2 linked regions of the Homo sapiens genome follow. The protein of the gene in region 2 interacts with the protein of the main gene of each other region in a pairwise test. Each region holds a gene or a part of one and is shown on either strand. Other genes may lie near its edges.

Region 1 (7,000 bases), on a different chromosome or scaffold from region 2:
ATTTTCAAGCTCCCGGTTAATCCCCACCAAAGTTTCTACTGTTCGGCTACTTCAGGATGGCTAACATTTGGAGAGAAGAGGATCCCCCAGGTAGTCTGTACATAATTCAGAGAGAGGACATCAGAATTTTCCATGGTTCTATTTCAGGTATTAAGGTACCACAGTGAAGCATGTCATTTGACTGTGGTGGCAAAGGGACGGCACTGAGCATGCCTAACCTATTCCCTGGCATTTCAGTCCAATCAGCGCATGCTCGCAATGATCATCCATGGGTGAAAAGGAAGAGCTGAAAGACACATGTGCTGAGCAACATTTAATTTCTGCTTGTTAAACGGGTGATTAGGCGCCAGTGTGGCACCATCCAGACACTGGGAATTTGTGCCACTCCATCAGTTCTGCTGGCTCTGCTCATTCTGCTTTCCTGCAGTGGATGCCACTTCCCAAAGAACCATGCTCCAAAAAACAAAAGAGAACTGAAAAACAAAACGGGAAACTTTCAAGATAAAGCACCCCCCCACCCCGACAGGAAAGAGCTACATTGTAGAAAAGGATATTCATGTATGTTTAGAGATATAACTCCCAACACCGGAGCAGTCTGCTGCCACCAATTCCCTAAATCTTGAGGCTTGAGTCTAATTTTGATGCTAAAAGTAGAGCTTAGTGTTGGAAGAAAGATGATGCTTTAAAAAGTTTTCTTCTATTTGCTTGGAAACCCAGTGACCCTTTCCAAGCCAGATCCTAAAGCTACCTTTGCCCATCCTTCTCTCTTTCTCTTCTCCGTGACAGCACTGTGTTAAGCACTAGAGGAGAAAAGATAAGAGTGGATATGGAGGGACTTAAAGATCTGGGACCTGGAAAACCGTGGTAATTGAAATGTAAGGTTATACAGGAGATAATGGCAGGATATGAGGCAGGACAAATAAATCAGGGATAGATTGTGGCAATGCAGGGGGTTTCAATTTTGTTATTTGGGCAATAGGGGGCCAAAAAAAAAAAGTTTCTAAGTAGGGAAGTGACATAGTTAAAGGCGTGGTCAGAATTATAAATTTTCAAAGACCCCTGTGGCTGTGTATAGGATGAATTGGAAGGAGAAAAAGAAAAGAAGTGGAGAAAGCCATCATGTTACTGCTGCAGTTCAAATATGAAATGATCGGTCCTGAACACTGGGTATGGTAACAACAGGACAGAGATGAAAAATACTTCAGAGATAGAAAAGACAGGTCTTGCTGACTGATACTATGTGGAAGGTGAGTGGGGGGAATCTACAATCTACCTTGATGCTGAGGTTTCTATCTTGGGTGACTGGATGGATTTCTTAATTAATCCAACAAATATTGAGGACCCATGTGCCAGGTACTGGGGACAGTGATGAACAAGACAGACATGGTCCCAACTGTCAAGGAACCAGTCTACCAAGAGAAGCAACAGGGCAAACAAATACAGAAAATATTATTTATTTAATTATAATCTTAACTTGCCAGGCGAGGGTGTAATAAAGAATCTAACCTACTCTGCAGTCAGGGACAGTATAAATGATGGTGCCATTCCCTGAGACAGGAAAACATGAGGAGGATCTGGTTGTAGTGGGGGATGAGTATAGCTTGGAATGTAATGAATTTGAGGCAACTGTTGGTATACCTACCTGGGGATTTGCAAGACAGGGAAACTTGGAAAGAGGGGCTGGAGATAGAGTTAAATCCAGGGAAGACTAAGGAATATGGTGGAGAATAAGTTCCTAATGCATAGCCTTCCACTTGGGAGAATGAGCTAGGCCTTCCTGGAGACATCAACAGGACAATACCACATTCAGATGTCAGCGTTTGATGATACCACGAAGGTGAGGCTAAGGCAAGGGCTAACTGCCCAAGTCTACTGGCTCAAGAAAAGAGAAACATTGCCAACAAAATATCTGTGAAAAGTGGCTGGAGAAAGCCAGATGCTGTAATTTGCTGGCATGAAAGAACCTAAAGCCCTGATCAGCCTTTTAGTAACCATCAACTTGGGTTCTGAAACGCTAAATAAAGGTAGGGACAAACGGGCCCACAGAGCAAGCACTCAAGATTTTATATTCATAAATATATACTCTGTTTTTCTCTCCTCTTTCTAGCTGTCTGTTCCAAATCAATGTCAAGACTAGGGAAGAATATGAAGACTAGAAAATTCCCTTCTCAGGTAGGCATGGTGACTCATGCCTGTAATCCCAGCACTTTGGGAGGCTGAGGTGGGCAGATCACTTGAGGCCAGGAGTTAGAGGCCAGCCTGGCCAACATGGCAAAACCCCATCTCTACCAAAAATACAGAAAAATTAGCCAGGCATGATGATGCATTCCTGTAATCCCAGCTACTCGGGAGGCTGAGGTATGAGAATCACTTGAACCCGGGAGGTGGAGGTTGCAATGAGCCGAGATTGCACCACTGTCCTCCAGCTTGGGCAACAGAGTGAGACTCTGTCTGAAAAAAAAGAAAAAAAAAAATTCCTTCTCCTGCTGCCAACTTTTAATGGGTGGCCAGAAGCGAAGAGGTTGGGAATTCTTGGCACTTAGGCCAGAGGGAGAAAAGTAAGATGCTGTTGCCCTTTGTGCCAAAGTTGGTCCCTAATGTCACCATCAGCCAGCACTTCCTTACCTCTTGAAGATTGCCTCTACCACCTCTTGGCCTATGACCTGACTCCTGACCATTTTTGGCTCCCCATCTTGGGTGGCTGCACTATCGCATGGGCATTCTCTGTCCCTTTCCTTGCCTCAGCCCTGCAGCCAAACCTTCCAATGTCACCACAGTCTGATCTGGGATGTTCCAATGAGAAGTTCCCATAATCATGTTTCTCTCTTTAATGTAAAAGGGCCTTCTAGTCTGTGTGGCGTATGAGATGTAAAACTGGAGTATAGAATCTGGGAGGGTAAGGACTGATCTCCGTTGTTCACCAGCACAGAGTAGAACTTCAATGAATGAACAAGTAAAGATTTCCCAAGTAACCTGCCACATAAATCCAGGAAAGTTTTGATGCTATATGATTGGCCTAACAACTTGTTCAAATGAAGCTTTCTCCAAGTGTCTGCTGGGTGCTAGGGAGCTATATTGGTAAATAAAGCTCTGCCCTCAAGGAACTCTCAGTCTATGAAGTTACAGTGAATAAGCAAACTGCCATAATAGAAGAACATACGAGAGCTGTAGAAGAGCACAGAAAAGAAAATAAGTAATACTACCTGGAGAAGTCAAGAAAAACTTCAGCAAGGAGAGGGTATCTCAAGTGAGTCCTGAAAAATAAACAGGAAATTGCCAAGTAGACAAGGCTTGTGAAATGAACACTCTTGACAATGTGAGCGAGTGACAGGATAACTGCATACAAACCCTGTGTATCCAATCAGGAGGATTTAATGACAAAGGACTCTCCAGAAGCCCTCTCTGCATCATTAATTAAAGCCCTGATCACACTGCGATATGATTATCTGCTGATGGCCCTCCTCCGGACAGCCCCACCTGTCACTGCCCCTGGAAAGCTCACCCCAATCTGGATGCGGTCTCAAGCCCTCAAGCCAAAGCAGGGCTTCCCAGGTACAGTTTCCAGGCTCTACCAGGGTCTTGGCTCAGAGAAGACATAGCACTGCCCTCATGTGAAAAGTTAATGAAGAAGGAAGGATGGAAGCCAGATATTCTTTATATTATTTCAATAACTTACATAGGGGTAGCATGCTGATTACAAGTACAGTCCCACACTGCATAATGATGTTTCAGTTGACAACAGACCACGTATACAATGGTGGTCCCATGAGATCACACCATATTTTTACTGTACCTTTTCTATGTTTAGGTACACAAATATTTACGATTGGGTTACATCTGCCTGCTGTATTCAGTATAGCAACATGCCACACAGGTTTGTAGCCTAGGAGCAATAGGCTATCCCACATAAGTGTGTTGTAAGCTATACCATCTAGGTTTGTTTAAGTATATTCTATGATATTGGCACAATGATGAAACTGCCTAATGACGCATGTCTCAGAATGCATCCCATCATTAAGCAATGCATGACTGTAACTGGAAGCTCCCCTATGATCCTGAGGTTCCAGGGAGAGAAGGGGTTCTCCCTGGAATGTGTTCTAAGCTAAGCCTTCCAATGCTCTCCTGGGAATGCGCTCTAGGCTAAGTTTTCCAATACACAGATTTACATGGGGAAGGTAGGTTACTGGTGAGATTAGAAGCCTTTATTTTTCAGTGAAAGCTGGGAGTCCAGAGATGACAGTAGAAGGCACAGCCAGCTCGTAAATCAGCAGCATTCAGGGCTCTGGACAGCCTCTCTATCAGCAAAGCAATTGATGCTTCTGCCAGGGAGGCTGCAAAGAAGCTGTTCATCACTACCTCATTTGGAGACTTGACACCCAAATGGAGGCTCTAACAGCCAAGTTCATAGATCTGAGCAAAGCGCAGAGGCGTCAAATCTGTGTACACCAGTCTGCTAAGTCTTCAAGGGCCCTGAGGGGCAGGCTCTTCTCAGATGCTGCTCTGACTCTCTGAAGGCCTTTACAACCAAAATGAAATGAAATAACTTAAGTCCTAGCTCAGGGGCAGGTTGAGAGAGACCCTCAACATGGCGATGTCAGGTACTTTGGGCCAAAAGAGAGACCCAGGAAACTGTTGCCATTGTGTTCTCTACCTCTGTCCCTCTCCAGCTGGGCTCGAATTGTCTCGTTCTCAGTGATGTGAGTCCACATCGTCTTATCATGGTTCCCCTGTACAGCCTAGGTCTTCATCTTCCCAAAAGCCATGGGAAGCAGACTACTTTTTCCAGAACAGCTAACTGACTGTGCTCAACCTTTATGACCCAGTTCAAACAAGAGCCCCTCTCTGAAGCTTCCCTCCAGGCCAACTCCAACTGAGTCCCTCCCTTCTTGGCCCCATAATGCTAAACTGACAACTTGGCTATGGCATTTAAAGCTTTAATAGTTCCTATATGGATTGACAACAGTATATGCAAATACTTCAAATATATACGTATCACAAGTTTGTGCTTGTGACTGAGAATCTAAAATGGCCTCCAGTGATCCCTGCCTGTCTCCAGGCATTCATGCCCTTGTGTAATTGCCTCCCCTAGAAGGTAGGCAAGACCTGTGACTTGCTTCTAGTCAATAGAAGATGGTAAAGGTGATGACCATCTCTCCTATGTTTACATTATATAGGACAGCAACTTCCATCTCACTATCAGACTCGATTGCCTCTCTCTCCCTTTATGGCTTTGATGAAGTGAGTGATCATACAGAGAGGCCCACGTGGCAAGCAACTGAGGGTGGTCTCCAAATGACCGTCAGCAAGAAGGCCCTCATTCTACGAAGCCACAGGAATTGAATCCTGCCAACAACCTTGTGAGTTGGGAGGCAGATCTTTTCCCAGTCTAGACTTCAGGTGAGACACCAGCCCTGGCCAATGTTTTGACTGCAGCCTTGAGAGAGAATCTGAAGTAGAGGAGCAAGCTAAGCTATCCCCACAGTCCTGCCCCACAGAAACTGTGAGAATGTGTATTGTGGTAATACCACTGGGCAGCAATAGATAATTAATACAGCACGCAAACTCTCAGCTGATAAGACATGCAATCAAAGGAGTGTGGAGACTGCTACTAAACACCTCTAGACCCGCAGAGGAAGGCTCCATCAAACAGCCAAAGGCTAGCAGTGAGAACCTGCACGTTTTAGTGGTAAAAAGAACATTTGTCTAAAAAATGGGAAAGTGAAAAACCTCAAAAATTGGCTTCCCAAGACTTAGATATGAGTCCCAGCTCTGCCTCTAAGAGGTAGGTGATCTTAGTCAGCCCAGATTTACTCAGCCCAGCCTTCTCATCTATACATACAATGTGGTCAAGAGGGCCAGTAAGAGTGGCCAATGAGAGAATAAACTAGGAAATGTTTTGTCAGGCCGGGCGCGATGGCTCACACCTATAATCCCAGCACTGTGGGAGGCCAAGGTGGGTGGCTCACAAGGTCAGGAGTTCGAGACCAGCCTGGCCAACATAGTGAAACCCTATCTCTATTAAAAATACAAAACATTAGCCAGGTGTGGTGACGGGCACCTGTAATCTCAGCTACTTGGGAGGCTGAGGCAGGAGAATCTCTTGAACCCGGGAGGCAGAGGTTGCAGTGGGCCAAGATTGCGCCACTGCACTCCAGCCTGGGCGACAGAGTGAGACTCCACCTCAAAAAAAAAAAAAAAAAAAAGTGTTTTGTCAAATGGAATGTGATAGACACATGTTAGTTTGCCCCAGAACTCTGGGGTGGCCTTGGGTAAGGCACTGTCCTCTCTCGGTCTCAGCTTCCTTATTGTAAAATGAGGAGGGAAGCCCATGCTATTTAATGTCTCCAAGGGCTCTGATCTTCTTTGATTCTAACATCGCATACCCATGAGAAGAGAGGAAGAGGCGAAAGTGGTAGACTATGACATTTTACAATAGTTCCCAGTCATTCTACTGGCCAGGGTGACTGTCTTACCATTAAGGAACTGGAAAGCATTTGACCAGTCATATCTAGTCAACCTACAGGGCCTACAACCTGGATTCCTCAACTAAGAGGGAAAATCCCCATTTGTTTTACAAAAAGGAAAAAATGATCAAGGTAAAGTCAGTGGGAGCCACCAAACATAAACTACTGACGCACTCTGAGAGTGGCAGTAGCTTTGATTTTATTGCTGAGCACCTTAACTATGTGCCAGGAGCTTTTATAAAAATAATCTCCAACCTTCACTACAATCTTATATAGTTTGTGTCATTCTTATTGTAAAGACAAGTTAGCTGAAGCTCAAAGAGAGTAAGCCCCTTACCCAAGGCACATTGCTAGTACATGGTAGGGCTGGGATTTATCATTATTATTATTAGAGACAGGTTCTCTCTCTATCATCCAGGCTAGAATGCAGTGGCACAATCACAGCTCACTTTAACCTCCATCTCCCAGGCTCAAGTGATCCTCCAACCCCAGCCTCCCAACTAGTTGGGACTACAGGAGCATGCCACCATGCCAAG
Region 2 (13,625 bases):
ATAAACTCATAGGTAATTTTCTTTCTTTATATTTATTTTCTCCAAATTTTCTATAAACATATCACTTTTATGATAAATACAATGTCAAGATTCAGCTGCCCTGTGTAAGGAAACTTAGACCCAGCTAATGCTCATTCTCAATCTCATGAATTTTTCTATAAAACTTGAAACTGCTAAAATTTATTTTAGTCATTGAATATGAGACAAGTTTTCATTGTTCTCATGAGGAAAGAGTCAAAACACACTGAAAAAGAACATGTAGTGTTTGGAAAAGTATGATTACTGCTATTCAAATTCTTTTTCAATAAATATTTACTAAGTACCCACTCTGTGTAGGTTCCTGGCTAGGTGCAACTTGCTGACGTGTGCCAGGGCTAGACTTCATTAGATTATCATCTAGGCTACCCCGGGTATCTTGGAGTTAAAATGAAAGCACGGTCACATTTGGCCCATACTTTGAGAAGCAAAGAGTCTTCCATGATAATAAAACATAAAATGGGTCAAAACAGATGAGGACCAAGGATTTTAACAACATTCTTCCAGTGTCCTTCCCCTGACAATATCTTTATTTCAAAATGGGGGAGATGATTATGTTAGCATCGGTGTTCTGCTGCTACCCTTAGAAATTTCTAAAGCCCTACCATCATTTCTTAAAATAGTGTGACTTGTCCGCATTGACAGAAATTTGCAGGTATTAGCAGGTTTTCACTTTTCCCACCAAATCATCAGGATATGGAGTGAAACTATTCTAAGTGAATCCGCACCATGTTAGAGATACAAGGAGACTTTGGTGACAAGTGACTAAAGCTTTTCATTTGGGGTGTAGCCTTTTTTGCCCAAAGAGACAAAGAGCCAGGCAGCCACCAAGGACCCAACTGGTCTCGCTCTCAGGGTTCTAAATACACTGAGGTATATGGAGGTTACAATGGTTGAAGGAGGCATAATTTTAACCCAGGGAGGGTAGGGAGTTCAACAGGGAAGGAAAAGAGGAATTGGGTTGGGAGAGAACAGAGAGGGCGGAATAGAGACAATTTTCATATACTGTTACACTCTACACAAGGCACTCCACCCTATAATAAATCTTATTTGACCCTTGGAATCACCTTGTAGGGCAGAAGTCACACAGTATCATTCCCTCTAGTTTACAAAAGAGGAAACTAAATACGAAAGTAACCTTGCTCAGGGTTACCCCATCACCTTTTGAGGAATACCTAAATATTATTACTATAATCTTCTATTTGCCCTGGTAAGAAAGCAGCCCATTCTAAAAAAACTTCTGATACTAGGATACACTATTACTTCTTTTCATTCATTTTTTTAACTTCCAAACAGTAGTTATGCCAAAGGAAAGAAGGGAGGGTGATACAAGACAAGAGGAATTATACAAAGAAAGCTCTGTTTTCAAAAGGGGAGGTGGTGAAAAACAAAATTTCTTTCTCCCCACTTTGTTGGGTATGTGGTTTATGCTCATGGTAGAATCTTCTGTGGGTAGATGCTTATGACTTTTCATTAAGCAGAGCCAAGGGGCATAGGAACTGGTAAGTATATGAGATGGATAAAGCAGATAGAGTAATTATAGGCAGGTGAAAAGATATACACACATTTATTAATATCTTCTACTTTGCAGTTAAAAAATACTTACTTTCTGTATATTAAGCAAGGGATAACAACTAGCATTTGGAACACACATCGAAACGCACTAATCTCTACAGCATGGACGTCTTGCACTTTTTTAACAAATAAAGAGCCCACTGAGAAAAGGAAGGCAGACAATAATGTGTAAAACAAGCCAAGTCCAGGACAGGGTGCTTTCTTCTTGGCTTCTGAAAAAGATTAAATTCTGGTTAGTCCTTGCTTCCAAGTGTATGTGTTATCATTTTCACTTAGAAACTGAGAAAAATGGAACAGTGTCAAAGGTCAACAGGCTTTATTACCTCCTAAGCATATCATTTCTCTGGGCCTGTACCATTTTCCCCATCAATTATGAAGAACCATAGATGAGGATAACAATTTAAACCTGCATTTTTAAAATGCCGTTTCGCCCTATCAAATGGATTTCCTATGGCTCACTGAAGAATCATCCTCACTTACAAGTCAAGAAGTAGAACGCTTGCCAAGATGGTGAGAGAAATCTTTAAGAAACACTTGTCAAGATGGCAAGTAAAAAATCCTTCCAAGTGATATCTTACGCCACACCTCACTGGCGAAATTGGCTTTATGAAGAAAGTGTTCTTTTCTGGAAAATGGGTTATAATTGGGTTATACAGTTATCTGTTGATTATTTGACTTCCTCCCACAAGTCTGTGAGCTCTTCCAGGGCTGGGATCTTGCTGTCTTGTACATGCCTGGCACATGGAAGACACTGGATAAATATTCAGTGAATGAAAGATGAGAGAACTTCAGGGAAAGACTCAAGAGTCTAACACTATCGGCAACAGCATAATCTGGGAAGGTTCTCCATTTTGTTATTTTGAACTGTTAATCAAATCTATATTTAACTTTTCATGCTTTCACGACTTATCTTCCCATTCAGAGCACAAACTCCTCAAGGGGAGGGTGTGGGTTATCTAGCCCTTTGGATCCCAAGTGCTTTGTACAGAACTGCCATCTAATCCCTACTCTTGGCTCGATCTGAACGAGGAAACCAGTGCTTTCTCCAGGGCATCAAGTATTCAGTCATTAATGACAATCTGTGTGAGCTTTAAACTTGTTTAGCCACTTACTATGTCTTAGTTTCCTACACAGGAGTAGAACCTGCTTTCAGTCTTACTCCTCTGTCATTCAGAGAGCAAAAGCAGCAGGGTGGGCAGAGAATGCCCTAAAACAAAGGTCACACACTGCGGGATATATTCTTTTTTGAAATTAACACAAAAACAGGGTTGAGGGTAAGAAGGAAACACAAGTGGCCCTCATTGATTAAGAGCACAGTGGAACTGAAGGGTGAGTGGATATGAGCAACTTGTAGGAAAACTCGTATTATCATTCCAATCTAGGACTTTATAATGTGATAGCTATAAAACAGTATTGTGTAATGTTTTTTAAAATGCCCTTCTCTGATAAATGTAAACACCAGGTAACACATTTACACATCCTCAGGTTAGTGAGATGACTTTGCAAACTGGGACCAAAGTATGCTGATGCACAGGCTTTCTGGGGCATTCTACAGCCTGGCCTTGTGGTCAAAGGCACCCTTCTCTACCTCTTCCTGTTCTAGGTGCACAGCTGAAGATACTGCTTTGGAACTAGCAGTAGTCCTTCCCTTAAGATGCCAGAATCCTCATTCTGTTCTGTATCCATGTGCTTGTATACTGCAGAAATAAACTGCACACACGCAGCCCACGAGAAGGAAGCTTTAGAAGACTTCCAAGTGAAGCACCACAAAATACATGCCTTGGCTGTGGTCAGCCTTAGGGTCTGGCCTCTGAAATTTCAGAATTCAGTTCCAAATAAAACAGTTTTTCTTAAAAGAAACTCAACCCCTACATAGAAACTCCACCCTCAAACAGAACAGACCGAGAAGATCAAGGACAGAAAACATCTCCCTGCTCTGTTTCAAGTATCTTCTCCAACATAAACTTGCTAATTTTTCCCCAGGAATATTTTAACTTAACATTAAATATTTTAACTCTTTAAAAATGTAATTGCACCCCCTTGGCCCTAGTGACCTTTCCCCTTAAAACACATACACATGTATTTTCTTGCCTATAAACACTTAAGGCTCATGCTTTCCAACTGGGAAGGGACAGACATTAGAAGGCCTCGCTGCATTTGATGATTTGTTAACGAGGGTGAGGACTGGCTCCACTCAGACAAACCTCAGTTTCTTACTAAATCATTTCAATCCTGTCAATGGAGATGAGCATGACTAGCATAACTGAAAGAGGCATTTGTTTAGGTTCCATGTTCATATCTCACTGCAAGCATATCTAATAATTTGGTAACTCAAATTATTCAAATTAGGTAAGTGGCCATGGTGTAATTTCCTCACTTAGAAGAAAACTGAAAAATTACTCAGCTTCTCTATCCTCTGCTTTCAGCTGGTGATTCGCAATCCTGGTTGGGAATTAGAATCACCTGAGTAACACTTAAAACTTTAATTCCTGGGTGCAGTGGCTCATGCCTGTAATCCCAGCACCTTGGGAGGACAAGGTGGGAGGATCTCTTGAGCTCAAAAGTTTGAGACCACCCTGGGCAACACGGGGAAACCCCCTCATCAATGCAAAAAATATTTTTAAATTAGTCGGGTGTGGTGGTGTGTGCCTGTGGTCCCAGCTACTCAGGAGACTTAGATGAAAGGATCGAGTAAGCCCAGGAGGTTGAGGTCGCCGTGAGCTGTGATCACGCCAATGCACCACAGCCTTGGTGACAGAGTAAGACCCTATCTCCAAAAAAAAAAAAAATTAATTCTCAAGCCCCATCTCAGACCCACCGAAATAGAATCTCTGTAACTCTAAAAGGCTCCACTAGTTTGAGAACCACTGCTACACTCGATCACTAACTCCCTCCAGAGGATGTGAGGCACAGGCCTAAGAAACTACTTCTCCTTGCTTCAGTGTAAGACCCACACTGTCCCTGAAGAAAGTAAGGAGATGTCTTGGGACAGCTGTATGTGTCTGTTAAGGTCATCCAAGAATGTAAGACATATGGGTAACAGTTCCAACCAGAACTTGAAAAAAGCTTTGTTGAGATAAGCAGTTAGAACAAGAGGTGTCACAAAGTTCAATGACAACAGTAAAGTGTTTTTATGTCAATTTTCTTTCCAAAATATTATCTTGTCACCTTACAATAACTAAGTCTTACTGGTAGAAACTTTCTTTGAAGTTAAACACCCACAAGATTCTTAGATACACTCACGTAAGTTTCTCATCTTGCCATGAGCTGCCTGGGAGTAGAGAATTCCTCTTCCATTCACAAAAAGGGGAAACTTTAAGAGTTTGCATGGACTGATTCGGCATGCCACCAGAAGGACATTCACCCAGAGGGTGATAGGTGAGAAACTGACCTTTTCAAAGGCTGCTTATCTGTTCAATTCAGCCTGGCATAACCCCTGTTCTAGAGGCACCAGCCCATTTATAAATGATCACAAGTCTGATCATTTCGGTTTGCCTTTAGGACAGAAATGGAGCAAGAATAGTCTTCCTAGAGTCTGTCTCTCTAACTTGGGGAAAGTGCACAAAGGGAGGAGGGGAAAGCGCAGTGAGAGGAGAGGAACAGAAATCCAGGGTCACACTTAGGGGAGGTGACCCAGAGGACAAGGTGGTGCAGGCCGTGTAACTGTCCTAAAAAGAGATCTGCCTATTCCCTTCTTCTTGCAGGAAGCTGCTCCTGGTAGATGGTCGACTTCTAAGAGGAATGTGCTTGAAGCAGCACTTGTGGCCAGTGGAAAGGGCCCTAGGCCGGTATATGGCAAGCTGGGATCCTAACCCTGGTGCTCCCTGGACATGCGCCCCATCTCACCCCCACGTTCCACATCTTGGAGGAGACAAAGCAAACGAAAACCCAAAAGCCCTCACCTTCCTGGGCCTCACTTTGCTCATGTGTCGAAGGAGGGGGACTGAACATAAAGTGTTCTTCACGAGGGGTCCCTGACTTTGGGGACGGGGCTGTGAGCTTCTTAACAAGATATGCCTTGTTCTGCATCGTTTGCTAAAAAGTCCTTGTATCCCTAAAGGTTAAAAACTAGCGGTCCCACTTATCTCTGCCTTTCCAAGATTCTAAAACTCTAGGACGAACATTTTTTCTAGACTCGATGCTTTTCAGCTTCCTTTTCGGAGAGAACCCTTAACCACCGGGATCACTTTTCAGGGTCAGCTTCCTCGCAACGTCGCCCCACTGCAGGATGGCCTCTCTCGCTGACCCCCCACCTACGACCTAGGGGAGGGTACGCCAAACTGCAGTCTGACTCCACAGCCCTGCCCCGACACTAATTACAGGAGCAGCCTCGGAATCCCAAAAGGACTGCTAACAATCGGAAAGTTTCTTCCGTCTTAGCGCCGGCTGGGGCGCCGGGAATTCCGCTTTGCAGCCCCCCAGCTGACAGCTCGAGGGGTTTCCCGAGCCCCGGGCAGGGTGGGGACGGAGGCGCGGCGGGCACTGTGCCCGGGTTGCGGGGACCCCAACCCGCCGGCGCCCGCTCGGGACCCCCGAGCGAGACCAGAGCCCGATCCACACCGCGCACTCACCCGGCTCGGTGCGGGAGCAACACGGCGAGGAAAGGCAGAGCCAGCACCTACCGCGGTCTGGCGCCCCAGCTGCCTCGGCGGCCGCCGGCTCCTCAGTGGCGCCCGGGGGTGCATCGTCCGTTAGCGGCAGCCCGGGCTCCTGGAGCTCCGCGACCCCGGTGCTGTCCTGAGGCCGCATCTCGCGGCACGCGCTCTACCAGCGGCCGGTGCCGTCTGGCGCCAGCAGCAGCGCCTGGGCTGCCGCTCTTCCGGCGGGCGATGGCGCCCATGCGCATGCGCGCCCGGCCCACCCGCACCCTCCCCCAAGGAGACCGCGCGCGTCCTCCGCTGGCCTCTTAACCTGGGGAGACCCGCTGCCTCCCTGGTCGGGCTGTGGTGCCCACAGCTGGCTCTAAGGCGTCCAACCCTCTGCTGCGTTCAGGCTACATGGCCCAGCTGCTTGGAGCCATCCTTGGCAAGTCACACTGAACCTGTCTGTCATGGCACAGACAAGGAGGGGCGCTGGGTTCCCAAGCCCTGGCGCCCGGGGGTCCTGTGGCCTCCTTTTCAGGAGGCTCAAAGAGTGGGCGTTTTTTCATTGATGTAACCACGCATTCAGCACCTCTGTGATACCCCGAAGATTTTACAAAGCACCATGCTTGTCTTTAAATGGTCTAGGGTTTTTATGTTTTGTTTTGTTTTGTTTTGTTTTGTTTTGTTTCCCGTGTTGTCCCTTTGCTGCTTACCAAGGAGGGTAGAATTTTGCTGTTTTGGGAAATATTTTTAAGAAAGAATTAGTGTGTAATTATAGGAAAATATATCTATAAGACTGACCAGAACCCATTTATATGTTCTTTGCATTCTTTGCAAGAGTAGGCATGCATTATTGATCTTTGGTTTTCTTTTCTTAAATGGAAATATCCTAATTTGGCCAGATGTAAGATTCAAGTAATCTGATGTAATTAGACCTGGTAAAATATATTCTTTGGCCCAGGATTCACTAACAGCCTCTTTTTGTTTAGCTAATAATTCTTCTTCCATCTCTTTGCTTGCTTTATATGTGGAAGAACAGTCTCTGTGCAAGGATGAACGTATCTAAACTTCTAAGTCCAGTGCCAAGCAGATCACCAAAGGAGAGTGAAGTTTGCCTTTACTCAGACATTTGCACATAGTGATCCACAGCTGAAACAGTTTTAGACTTGAAGTCAGGAATCCTAGGTTCTGGCCCTGAGTGTGTGACCTCAGTCACCACTGTACCCCTCGAAGCCTTGATTACCTCCTTTATTTAATAGCGATCAAGTATTTCCCTTCCTGCTTCGCAGAGTAGTTATGTAAATAAAATGCAATGATGTGGGCAAAAGCATAATATCACCTGGAAAACACTATGTTAGAAAATCAAAGTGTGTTTTAAACTAGGGTCAGCATATAATTTATCCTCCAAACTGGACCTTTTTTTTTTTAAGAGTAAAAGGAGGAGCTCTTTTAAAAGTTACACAAGGGAATAGGCATAAACTGGGACTGTCCTAGGCAAACTGAGACAAATGGTCACCTGAATTCTAACTTGATTAACACATACTTTTGCCTTGTCTTAAAAGAGAATTTAAGGCTGGGCACGGTGGCTCAGCCTACCATCCTAGCACTTCGGGAGGCTGAGGTGGGAGGATTGCTTGAGCTTAGGAGTTTGAGACCAGCCTGGGCAACATAGACCTTGTCTCTATAAAAAAAATAATAATACTTTTAAAAGAATTTAAGGCTACTTACAAAAATATCTGTAACAGGTTTTGTTGTCGTTGTTTTAGATAGGGAAATTTCAGGGAAGGATGGTAAGGGTGGTAGATCATGATTATAAAGCAAGAACCAGGAAGCTTCCTCAAATATCTGGGAAGTCAAGTGCAGTTTCACAATTGCATTCTAAGATTTCGATATGGAAAGGGTTTGAAGAGTCCCCTCCTCTTAAATGGTGAAGATTATGGCTAGGAAGTGTGGTAAAGAAGAAAGAAGTGTGATGATTTGAGAAGGAAGTACCCTGACTGCTCCACTTTCAACACTTTCAACACCATCCTCGAAAAGGGAGAAGAAGAAGAGAAGAAAATGGGTACTACACCAGTTATTAAAGGTGGTGAGATGATTTCATACCTGCTGTTTATTCCCTTTAACTTCCTTCCCCTCCACTGCTGACCTTCATATATAAATGGTATCAGTTATATTCATTCTCCCATTTAGCTGACAGCCATGCTGACATAAAAGGCAACCAATGAGAAAAGTGCGGACCAAGCTGGCCTGTAATCCCAGCACTTTGGGAGGCCGAGGAGGGCAGATCACTTGAGGTCAGGAGTTCGAGACCAGCCTGGCCAACATGGTGAGACCCCGTCTCTACTAAAAATACAAAAATTAGCCAGGTGTAATGGCGGGTGCCTATAATCCCAGCTGCTCAGGAGGCTGAGGCAGGAGAATCACTTGAACCCAGGAGGCGGAGGTTGCGGTGAGCCGAGATCACGCTGCTGCACTATATCCTGGGCAACATGAGCGAGACTGTCTCAAAAAAAAAAAAAAAAAAAAAAAAAAAGTGCGGACCAGACTAGAAGTCAGAAGACATGGCTGTCCTGAAGCTCCACCCAGTAGAGGTGTGGGGCTGTTAAGGTCTCTCCTGAACATTGTTATTTCAGGTCTTTGGTGATGATAGTGATATTGAGCTGGTGACAGATAGATCTCCATAATGTGCAGGATGGGCCAGAAATCCCGACTGTAGAGGAGACTAGTTCAGAGCCTATTGAAGTGACCCAGATGAGATTCTGACCCCAGGTAGAGAAGGCAAGGAGGAAAGATGGATTTTGAGGTGGCTAGGAGATGGAATGTGCAGAACTCGTTGACTAGATGTGAAAGAGCATTGTTTCTGTATGCAAAATTGTGCTGTGTTCCAGCACACACTCTTCTGCTTCTGAAGTGATTCAATCTTCCAGTGAGAACAGGAGCTCTCACTGTGATGCCAGGTAGCCACAGCAAGGATGGCACTCCCATAGTTCTGGTGTCAAGAAGGAAGATGAAAATGGAGAAGAGGTGGGTTTTAACCTGTCCCTGCTAACCACTGAAAGTCCAAGATCCTCACCATCCATGTGGCAGCAGGTGGAGACTTCCAGGAGGAGTCAGATTCCTGGTTTCCACTGGTCTTTGCATGTCAGGGATGTTCCTAAGTGAGACGTTTGTATGTCAGAAACTGTCTTTCATAACAAACTGGTACCTTGGTACTGATTTGAAGGACTGCTTTTTTTTTTCCAAAAAATTCATGGATTCTTACCTTTTAAACTAATGCAACTTATGACTTGGGAAATGGCAGTTTGTTCCAAACAGCCCTAATGTTTTGTTTTGGGAAAAATCAGTACTGTGGAACATAAGATCATATTTCTAAATAATCTTTGTAAATGAAAGAAGGGACCAGCAAAAGAGAGGTCATTTAGGATAAATGTAGGATAGAACACTGGAGAGGCAAAATAAACTGTTCAAATAAGTAGGAGCTGACTCTGATAATATAACAGAAAAAAATGCCAGGAATGGCTCCTCAAAAAATTAGACATAGTTACTATATGATCCTCCAATTCTACTTCTGGATATATATTCCCAGATGAAGTGAAAGCAGGAAATTGAACAGATATTTGTACATTCATTTTCATATTAGTATTATTCACAACTGCCAAAAGCTGGAAACAACTCAAATGTCTGTCAATGAATGAACAGATAAGCAAAGTGTGGTATAAAGCATACAGTGGAATGTTATTCAGTCTTAAGAAATGAAATTCTGACATGCTACAACATGGATGAACCTTGAAGACATTATGCTAAGTAAATAAACTGAACATAAAAGGACAAATATTGTATGATTCTATTTATTAGCAGGGCCTAGCATAGTCAAATTCATGAGACAGAAAGTAGAATGATGGTTCCCCGGGTCTGGGATGTGGAGGGAATGGGAGTTAGTGTTTAATGGGTATGGCATTTCAGTTTAGGATGGTGAAAGAGTTCGGTGGATGGATGGTGGTGATGGTTGTTCAGCCATGTGAATGCACTTAATGCCACTGAGTTGTATATTTAAAGTGGTTAAAATGGTAAATTTTATGTGTATTTTATTAAAATTTTTAAGGGGTTAAAAATGCCAGGGAAAACATTTCTGAGAGTTTGAACTTTAATCTCTGTAGACAGTTTAAAGCCCTTACCAGATTTTTGAAGTTTCTTTGAAGTCCTGTGTTTCATCTTTAAAAAGGCATGACAATTTTCCATTCTGATCCCTAATATGTTTATCTTTATCTTCATACCATTTTTCATGTAATGCATTCAGCTAGTGTTGTTTGAGTGCCCACTTTGGACCACGTACAGTTCTTGGCAGTGGTGGAGTTGGGAACAAAAGAGACAAGGCCGAGGACGTGATCGGGATGGGGAGGGAGATGATGGAGAAATGAAGAAATGATGCTAGCATTACCTAGCATCCTGCAAAATCCATGAGCCAGGGGTGTGGCACTCGTTTAGTTCCCAGCTTTCTGTTCTCTCCTGTTGGACAGATTGGGCTGGAAGTCAGGATGCTCCCTTTCAAGGGAGCTCTGACGATGGGGCCAGGACATTCTCCAGTTCTTCCTTGCTTTCCTACTCTCTGATCTGTTCCCATGCTGCAAAAGGCACCTTCTGTATAAACGATTTCTGACACCCCAGGGAACTTGTATTTTTCTATGAGAACTTTCTGTTTATAGATTATCTGAGAGTGAGGATGCCTGAGCTTTAGAGTTGGCCCTGGGTGTTGCTACAGAATTCACGTTAACCCCAGATTTGTCATAACTTGGGATCTGGATTGCACTCAACTCTCATTTTGATAATTACCATTTATGAAAGAATCAAAATGTGCCAGGCACTATTGAGCTCATCAGCTTATTTGATACTCAGGAGAGCTTTATCCAGCAGTTTTGCTTAATAGTTAAAAGCAGGGCTCTGGAATCAGAATGCCCAGGGTCCATTCCTGGATGTACCACTTAACCAGCCTTGTGACTTCCGACACATGACAGCCCATTGCTCTGAGCCTCTGTTTTCACACCTATAAAATAGAATAATAATAGTATCTAGCTGTTGCGAGGATAAAATGAGATAATACTTGTAGAGTACCCGACAGTAAGTACTCTTTTTTAAACAGTATGCATTTTATCATCCTCATTTTATAGATGAGAAAATTGAGGCTCAGAGATGTTAAACCAGTTGCCCAAAGTCAAACTGATAGTGAAGGGCCCAGGTAGGATTGAAACCCAGGATCATCAGACGCCTAGGTGGGTGGTCCTGATGACTCTGCTCTATTATTTGCCCAGAGAGCTGAATTGCCAGGATTGCTGGTTTCTGAGAGGACCTCATTAGAGCATAGTTTCTTTCACTCAACGTTCTCCTTTGAACGCTGAGACCATTGCGATGGCAATACTCATGATGACTTTCCACACAACTGTGTGATGTGCACTAGGCTTATGGTGTCTCTCTAGCATCTTAACTTTCCTAGAGTAAAATGCTGTGAAATAAATAAGAAAAACAATTTTTATAATGCTATTAACAGAATCCAACCTCTGTCCTAATCTGCTATGACAGCAGTCGTACTCCAGTGTCTACAGCTCTGATCTCTTCCTAACTCAATTCTGCTGTCCAAAGTATGGGTCTCAGCTGGGTCCCACAGGGAATGGAGGCTGTTCATAGGCAATTTGCAACGTGAATACCTACATATAACTCAGACCTAATGTTAGTCCCTTCCTGAATCGTCTGCATGCCTCAGGCACTCTGTTATTCTCCGTCTTCTCCTTCTTTCTCCCTGCTCCATTTCTGTGTACCCATTACTGGATGTTCTTCCAACTCCTGATTCTGTCGAACAAAAAGGGCAAACATTAATTTCTACTAAGATGAGACCTCAGGGAGAAAGAAGGCTTAAGCCAAGTGTCAGTAAGCAGAGAATTCCAATACCAAACTACAAAGTATTATTTATCCTACAGACAAACATATGTACACACACACACAGTGCTTGGCTACCACAATCCAATAAGAGAAGCCAGTTCTAGTCCGCTAAAGCAGCAGCAATTTCACCTTCAGTGGTAGTAAGGATAGAAAGCACTCAAGAGGTTCCATTTAGATACAAAGCCATGTATATTTGCTTTGTATATTTGTATATTAGCTGGGACTACAGGCACATGCCACCATATCTGGCTAATTTTTCAATTTTTTGTAGAGACAAGGTCTCACTATATTGCCCAAGCCCGTCTCAAACTCCTGGCCTCAAGCAACCCTTCCACCTCAGCCTCCTAAAGGGGCTGGGCATGAGCCACTGTGACTGGCCACTGTGACTGGCCCCAAGCCCAAGTTCTTAACCATTACTGCCCTAAAACAACGAATGCTTTTAGGTAATTCTAGTTTGCCAAGGTCAATATTTCCTGCAGCCTCCATAGTGTGTGTGTATTCATATTTGTAAAACATTTAGATAAAATGTATGATAATTGTAACAATAGCTTACTTAAAGGATAGAGAGGAGGAAATAGGTTATAAGTTTCTTTAAATATATGCATTGTTAGTATTTTGTTTAGGACAGTCAATTACCTCTTAAGGAGATTAAAAAATGAGGAGAAAAATCTTTTACGTATACATAAATGTTTACCACTTCTGAAACTCTTCATTCCTTTGTCTAGGACTATGTCTCTATGTGATACATGTGATATCATTTTCTTTCAGCCTGAGGAAATTTTAAAATATTTCTTGTAGAGTAGATCTGCTGGCAACAAATTCTCTGTTTTTGTTTGTCTAAAAAATGTATTTCTATTTTGTGTTTTGAGGAATATATGTGTTGGATATACAGTTATAGGTTGACAGTTTTTTTCTTTCAAGACCTTGAAAATCTTGTTCTATTTTCTTCTGGCTGACTTGTCTCTGATGATAAATCAGTGTTAATATTATCTTTGTCCCACTGTTTTTTCTGGCAACTTTTTTTTTAAAGGTGATCAACCTTATGTCATTTATATTTTATTTTATATTTTTAACTTTTTTTATTTTTAATTTTTATGGGTACATAGTAGGTGTATATATTGATGGAGTACATGAGGTATTTTGTTACAGGCACATAATGTGTAATAACCCCATCAGGGTAAATCCATCACTTTAAGAATTCATCATTTCTTTGTGTTACTAACATTTCAATTATACCCCCTCAGTTATTCCAAAATGTGTAACAAATTATTGCTGACTGTAGTCACCCTTTAGTGTTATCAAATACGAAATCATATTCATTGTATCTAAGTAATTTTTGTACCTACTCACCATCCCTTTTTCCTACCCCTGCCCACACTACACTTCCCAGCCTCTGGTAACCATCCTCCTACTCTCTGTCTCCATGAGTTCAATTGTTTTAAATTTAGCTCCCACAAATGAGTGAGAACATGTGAAGTTTGTCTTTCTGTGCCTGGCTTA

Evidence for each region.
Region 1: the proteins of SLC35G1 (region 2) and YIPF1 interact in binary tests that used the Homo sapiens proteins (3 or more experiments, as listed by UniProt).

What each region holds. Positions count from the first base shown.
Region 1 is NC_000001.11:53,851,798-53,858,797, forward strand, and holds part of YIPF1 (protein YIPF1), read right to left. Parts: intron 3,255-7,000; exon of another isoform or gene 3,204-3,254; intron 474-3,203; 3' UTR 1-473.
Region 2 is NC_000010.11:93,886,769-93,900,393, reverse strand, and holds the start of SLC35G1 (solute carrier family 35 member G1), read right to left. Parts: upstream 6,417-13,625; 5' UTR 6,361-6,416; coding exon 6,183-6,360; intron 1,824-6,182; coding exon 1,643-1,823; intron 1-1,642. UniProt on the Homo sapiens protein: May play a role in intracellular calcium sensing and homeostasis. May act as a negative regulator of plasma membrane calcium-transporting ATPases preventing calcium efflux from the cell.